Linked DNA regions of Homo sapiens. The protein of the gene in region 1 interacts with the protein of each later gene in a biochemical or structural test. Each region holds a gene or a part of one and is shown in the gene's direction. Other genes may lie near its edges.

Region 1 (3,655 bases):
TTTAGATGGTTCAGACGTTTTCTATTACAGTTTTATCATCATTTAAATTTGAGTATTATATGTTGTATTATAGAAATATTCTTCAGGATAAAGTGCTAACAATTACCTTGGAAAAATGTTATTCAATTTCTTTTTTTTTTAACAAAGAAATGATTCTGATAAGATGACTGTTACTGCAGTAATTGGCTTTTAAGTTTTTTTTTGAGACATGCCTTGCTCTGTCACCCACACTGGAGTGCAGTGTTGTGATCATAGCTCACTACAGTCCCAAATTCCTGGGCTCAAGGGATTCTCCTGCCTCAGTCTCCTGAGTATCTGGGACTATAGATGTGTGCCACCACACTTACTAAGTTTTATTTTATTTTTTATAGAGATGGGGTCACATTATGTAGCCCAGTCTGGTCCCTAACTCCTGGCTTCAAGTGATCCTCCCACCTTGGCCTCCCAAAGTGCTGGGATTACAGGCGTGAACCACCATGCATGGCCTGGCTTTTAGTTTTATTTCTTGCTTTGTTTCCTAAACAGGGTCGCCATGTAGAAGTTTTTGAGCTCCTCAAACCTCCATCTGGAGGCCTTGGGTTTAGTGTTGTGGGACTAAGAAGTGAAAACAGAGGAGAGCTGGGAATATTTGTTCAAGAGATACAAGAGGGCAGTGTGGCCCATAGGTGAGATGGTCGCGGCGTCTTCTTTGTTTTTGATCCCACATTCTGAAGGTTTTGGTTACTATGCAGGAATTTAGAAAAATAATAATGAATGGCAACAAAAAATTGAACATAATCTGTTATTAACCAGTTTTTAGAAGTCATTAACATTGTTGTGATAAAATAGCAGGTTCTTTGAAATGAGAGTAGCTTTTAGATATAGTCATAACTTAAGTTTTGGTAAGGAAAGAAAAATTTGAGGATAACATTATTTTCATTGTTAATTAAATGGGCTCTTTTTGATTAGATTTTTAAAATTACCATGCTAGAAATGACCCATAATAATTCGAGCTGCATTTTTTTTATGTACCCAGAGCAATAATTTAATATAGTTGCCCCTCAGTATCCATGGGGAATTGGTTCCAGGACTCCTGCAGGTACTAAAATCTGCAGGTGCTCAAGTCCCTTATATAAAGTGGTATAGTATTTGTATATAGCCTGTGCACATTCTCCCATATATTTTAAATCATCTTTAACTTATAATGCCTAACACAGTGCAAATCCTATGTAAACATTAGTAGTCATATTGTATTTTTAAAATTTGTGTGATTTTTTTATTGTTGTGGCATTATTTTTTTTGAGTATATTTGATCCCCAGTTGGGGATCTAATCTATGGATGTGATCCCCAGTTGGGGATCTAATCTATGGATGTGATCCCCAGTTGGGGATCTAATCTATGGATGTGATCCCCAGTTGGGGATCTAATCTATGGATGTGATCCCCAGTTGGGGATCTAATCTATGGATGTGGAACCCATGGATACACAAGGCCAACTGTATAGATATATCCACTTTCATTTTTAGAAGATGAGAATATCCAAGATGTAATGTAGGCTGAGTAGGTAGCTGAAATAAAGAGTACTTTTATATGGGAGGGGTTCAGTAGGAGTAGCAGTGAAATAACCTTACGAGAGTTGATGACCTGCAGCCAAGGCGTGTATTTTTTTTAAAGTAGAACTGCAGGAAAAAGCTTAGAGTGTGGGAATTAAAAATAGGATTAAAAATGACTTGAACATACATGCCAAAGAAGCTGTCATTTCCTTGAGAACTCTCAGATTGTCTTTTATCCCCTTTTGCATCCTTGATAGAGATGGAAGATTGAAAGAAACTGATCAAATTCTTGCTATCAATGGACAGGCTCTTGATCAGACAATTACACATCAGCAGGCTATCAGCATCCTGCAGAAAGCCAAAGATACTGTCCAGCTAGTTATTGCCAGAGGCTCATTGCCTCAGCTTGTCAGCCCCATAGTTTCCCGTTCTCCATCTGCAGCCAGCACAATTTCAGCTCACTCTAATCCGGTGAGTACCTAAAATTTTCAAAAGGAACAGAACGTATTTTTCAAGTTGTTTTTGGTTATCTCCAAGTTTCTAATTTGTGTAGGGTCTTTGCACTTCTTGAGTTTTTGTCTGACTATTCTTTTATTTTTCCCCAGCCTGGAATATTTGTTCTTTAAGCATGATAAAGCTTCTAAGTTCTAAAACAACAATTACTTTTCTTTGTGTAGTTTTGTCCTTTGACAGCATTCCTTAAAAATGAAAAATGTAGTCCTTTAACAAAATTGACTTTATCTGTAGACAGATACAAGCTTGATTTTGCTTTAAAAATTATACAATTATATTGTTAGAGTTAGCTGTCAGTAACTTTTAAGAAGTCATCTAATTTGGAATCCTGCCTCAAGGCAGGATTATGCAGAAGACATTCTTAACATGTGACCTTTTTTTTTCTTTGAACTTTTTCTTTTTTTTTAAAGAAGTTCTACAAAAGATCTTGCAAATCAATGCCTGTCTTTAACTGTTGAAGTGAAATCATTATGATGATATATTGATAATTTCAAGAATGATTCTGTCAATGGCACTTACATTCTGTTGAAAGGGAAGTATACCAAATGAAAGGGACATTGTTAGGACTCATTATTATGTCTGAATTTAATTATTTAATATTAACAAAATAATCGCAAAAATTTCTACTGTAATGTAAAATGGTAGTGCTTTGTAAATTTCTACAAATTCATATATGAGCTTTGTTTGTAGGTTCACTGGCAACACATGGAAACGATTGAATTGGTGAATGATGGATCTGGTTTGGGATTTGGCATCATAGGAGGAAAAGCAACTGGTGTGATAGTAAAAACCATTCTGCCTGGAGGAGTAGCTGATCAGGTAGGCTACATCAATAGATCTTTTATGCTATTTTATCAAATAATATGGGTACATCTTTTACATTTTTTTGTTGGAAAGAAGAAACTTTGGCCTTAAATGATGCCAAAGAAATTGAGTTAGAATCTTTCGTTTTATTGAGTGTCCCTAAAATGTTGTCTTAGACCTAGGGGAGGAATACCTTTGAAAAGGGACAGTAATCTTAAGTTATAGTTTTAGACAATGAGTTTAACACTTTTGAACCTCAGACTAAAGCCAAGGTTATGGATTTGATAATTGTGGAGGTAGCTACTATTTGTTTTATAGTCATAATTCGTATTTATATACCTAGTCAGCTGTTTTATAGTCACAGGGTATTGTGGGAAAATATACTTTTGTATTCAGGCAGAAAAACAACATTCACCTTGTTCCTTTAGTGATGGGTCATTGGTATCATCTTTGTGTATGAAACACAGCCTGTTTTTTATCACTTGAGTAGTTTATTGAGGCATTACCATTTATGATATGTGACATTGTTGCAATATATGTGAGAAAAGATTTAACACATTTGTTATGATTTATATCTTAATTTGATAAGGCTTACTGGTTTAAGTAAGTTTTGCCTTGATTATAACTTTTTAAAAAATAAAGTGGTTGTTTATACATGTGTGTTTGAACTTAAAGTAGGAAGTCCAGCTCATCAAATATTCCCTGTATTCATAAATGAAATTCCTGTTTAATGGCAACCTTGTCAGTAGGGGTGTTAACGGTAATATAATAGTATGCAAATTTTTCTTCCTTTTAAACATTAGTTA
Region 2 (3,655 bases), on another chromosome or scaffold:
AATATGGCATTGTTTCAGGCTGAAATGAAAATGGCTTATGTGGTAAAAGCTTATTAGTTTAAACCCTGTTAATGTAAAAACCTGGACAAAAGCCACACTGAAGTTTACCGTGTACCCTGGCTGTGCAAATAAAAATACATGACTAAGAACATGAATAGCACAGGAAGGATGAACAAACGAACTGACAGAACATACTCGTTAGGGTACTTTAAAGGCATTCATTTATAAAAGAACAGTTGACTTAATCACTATAAATTACTCTTCTACAAAATAGTGCTTTTTAAAACCCAGTTTTATTATATACACCCTGAAAACAATAGTACTTCACTAAAGTATTCCCTTAGACCCCCCATGGTTCATGATGATATTCCAGTTAGTCTGCTATTAATAAGCGTCCACTAATATTGGAAGGTTTGACCCTTTGGATCTCTTTCTGCCACCCAGTTATAAATCTTATCATTTGATAATGTCAAAACCATTAAAACACCCTTTTAAAGTCCAATGAGCGGAGGAGCTACAGAGTTGTGATGGTGGCAGATGATGTTTTTTCACAGTGAAAGGCACCTTTCACTGTGGAATTTCACTATATGGAATTCGTAGTCTGATTTGGGATGGAATCCATGTCTGCCACTTTCTAACTCACCTCTGGTAAGTCACATAACCTTTGTGTGCCTCAGTTTCCTCACTGGTGAATATGGAAATAACACTCAGATCTATCCTGAGGATTCCCCATAAACCGCACTTCACAGTGTGTGACCTAGAATAGGCACTCCCTGTAGATTAACTTGCTTTCCTTTCTTGCTTGTCTTGCCACATGTTTTCACCATCACAGTTATCTTTTTGGAAAACAAACATCCAGAATGACAACGTAAAATGAGGATTTCTCCCTGGACAGCCACATGCTTTATGTAACGTAAATGACCTACTCTAATTGCAGGTTATATACAGGCATGTAGAGGACTTATGATCGCTGCTGTCAGCCTGGGCTTCTTTGGTTCCATATTTGCGCTCTTTGGAATGAAGTGTACCAAAGTCGGAGGCTCCGATAAAGCCAAAGCTAAAATTGCTTGTTTGGCTGGGATTGTATTCATACTGTCAGGTAAATAGTAACTTTCTTCCAAACAAGGTACTTGATGATGTTAATGAAATCACACTAACCATAGTGCTTTCCCTCTAATATTTGTTAGGGCTGTGCTCAATGACTGGATGTTCCCTATATGCAAACAAAATCACAACGGAATTCTTTGATCCTCTCTTTGTTGAGCAAAAGTAAGTACTCTTCTCAGTCTGTTTCCAGCTCACAGGAAGTGTATATAAATTAATATTCTCAACCAAGAGACATGAATTTCCTATATGACTTTTGAAAGTAAGACATACTGATAAATGGTAACTGATGACATCATTCAAGATTAAATGTGTCATATGCCACATACGCAAAATATGCATTTAATTAGTTTGCTAGTGTTGCAGTGTCTTGTCTCGAAACAGTTCAAGGCATCAAATTTAGAACTATAAACTTCATCGTTTGCTGTACATCATGAAACTGAGGTCAAGTAGAGGAAACGTGAAAGGTGTCAGACGGAGAGGAAAGAATGATGCGGTGTGCGAATAGAAAATTAAAACCTTGCCTTGATTGTTGCCCACTCAAAATGATATTTGCCAGATGCTAGTTTCTGGGTCTTTTAAATTTGCTGTATTAACTACTGTCTTAACAAGCTCCTCCTAATAAACCTTTATAAAGAAACTGTATACGATGCAAGGTTTTTGAAAAATGCTGTAGGAGCACGGCACCTTTACCCAAATGTGGCTGGTCAGTCTTGCAGATGAATGCTTTGGAATTAACAGATCAGTTTGCTTGTTGGTGTTGTTTTTAAACTATGGGCTGTTGCTTTTTATAGTTTCCCTAGGCTTATTTCTTTGGATTGGGAAAACCCCAGGGATACCAAATCAGAATTAATATATTAAATATTTTGTCTTACCTAAGAATGTATCTACATCCCTCTTTAGGAAGCCTCACGTACGTGTGTGTGTATTGCTATCAATGAGGCTGGTAATTTTATTTTAGACTTCAGGTCAAATTTTATAGAATTTTTAAGAAGTATATTACTGAAATAGCTGGTCAGCTGGGCTTTACTTTTTTTCTGGTGGTTTTAGGAATCTTCAGGAAATTGATTTTCTAGTTCTGGCTTAAGTGTACCTTACGCATAAACAGTAAATGCTTATATCATGAAATAAAATGAAAATAATAGCTAGCGCATGTTGAGTCCCCACCAGGAGCCAAGCAGAGCACTGCAAATATTATTTTATTGTGTTATTTTATTTTATTCTTACAAACAACCTTATAAAGTAGGTCCTCTTGGTACTCTTTTTTTAAATTGAGGAAAGAGGCCAAGTGATGTGTTCAAGGGAACTTGGACCAAACTAGTAGGCTGATTGAACTGGGATTCAAACCAGGCAGTTGAACTTCAGAACACTGGCTCTTAAAAAGCATGATTTCTAATATTCCACTATTTTGTAATTTTTGTGACAATATGCTACATGTACTGTTCATCAAGAGGTTTCTTTCGTCCTTTTTTTTTTTTTTTTTAAGAGTTAGGGCCTCTTTCTGTCACTCAGGCTGGAGTGTGGTGGTGTGATCTTAGTTGACTGCAGCCTTGCGCTTCTGCACTCAAGTGATCCTCCCACCTCAGCCCCCCGAGTAGCTGGGACATATATGTGCCACCACAACCAGATAATTTTTTTTTTTTTTTTGAGATGGAGTTTTCGCTCTTGTTGCCCAAGCTGGAGTGCAGTGGTGCGATCTCGACTCACTGCAACCTCCATCTCCCAGGGTCAAGTGATTCTCTTGCCTCAGCCTCCTTAGTAGCTGGGATTACAGGCACGCACCACCATGCCCAGCTAATTTTTTTGTATTTTTAGTAGGGACAGGGCTTCACCATTTTGGCCAGGCTGGTCTCGAACTCCTGACCTCAGGTGATCCACCCGCCTCAGCCTCCCGAAGTGCTGGGATTACAGGTGTGAGCCACTGCGCCCGGCCCCGGATAATTTTTACATTTTTTAACGGAGACAGGTCTTGCTATGTTGCCCAGAGTTGTCTCCAGCTCCTGATCTTCAATGATCCTCCTCCCTCAGCCTCCCAAAGCACTGGGATTACAGGCATAAGCCACCATGCCCAGCCTTTTCTATACATTTAAAAATAGTTTTTATTCAGAAATGTTATTAAATGGGAAAGAAAAACAAATTTTATTAAATGGGTTTTAGACCTCAATATAACTTTTTTATCCCCTGCCTATAATACAAAAACATGTCCTAATTTATTAATTTTCTCCTACTTATCTTTCAAATGAGATTTGCACAGATGTACATGGCAGGAAACATTGAAATAAAAACCAAGGCTGTATTTCTGAAGCTTAGAAATATTTTAATGATATTTAAAAGAAATATTGTATTTAAATGATACATTTTTATTTTAGGGTTTGATATCATAAATATGCAGCAAACCTGTACTTCTCATGGTTTATTTTATTAAACACATTTCTCACTCTTCCGCATTATCTTTTCTATATTACTGGTTTTATTTTCCTGACAATTATTAAGGATATCTTTGTCTATATCTTAAAAATCATTGGACTCTTTCCTCAAATGGTCAAGGCTA

What was found.
Region 2: the proteins of MPDZ (region 1) and CLDN10 interact in a test that uses a peptide from one of them, tested with the Homo sapiens proteins (one large-scale study listed by IntAct).

What each region holds. Positions count from the first base shown.
Region 1 is NC_000009.12:13,220,581-13,224,235, reverse strand, and holds part of MPDZ (multiple PDZ domain protein), read left to right. Parts: intron 1-525; coding exon 526-665; intron 666-1,789; coding exon 1,790-2,003; intron 2,004-2,735; coding exon 2,736-2,864; intron 2,865-3,655. UniProt on the Homo sapiens protein: Member of the NMDAR signaling complex that may play a role in control of AMPAR potentiation and synaptic plasticity in excitatory synapses. Promotes clustering of HT2RC at the cell surface.
Region 2 is NC_000013.11:95,559,195-95,562,849, forward strand, and holds part of CLDN10 (claudin-10), read left to right. Parts: intron 1-937; coding exon 938-1,099; intron 1,100-1,187; coding exon 1,188-1,269; intron 1,270-3,655. UniProt on the Homo sapiens protein: Forms paracellular channels: polymerizes in tight junction strands with cation- and anion-selective channels through the strands, conveying epithelial permeability in a process known as paracellular tight junction permeability.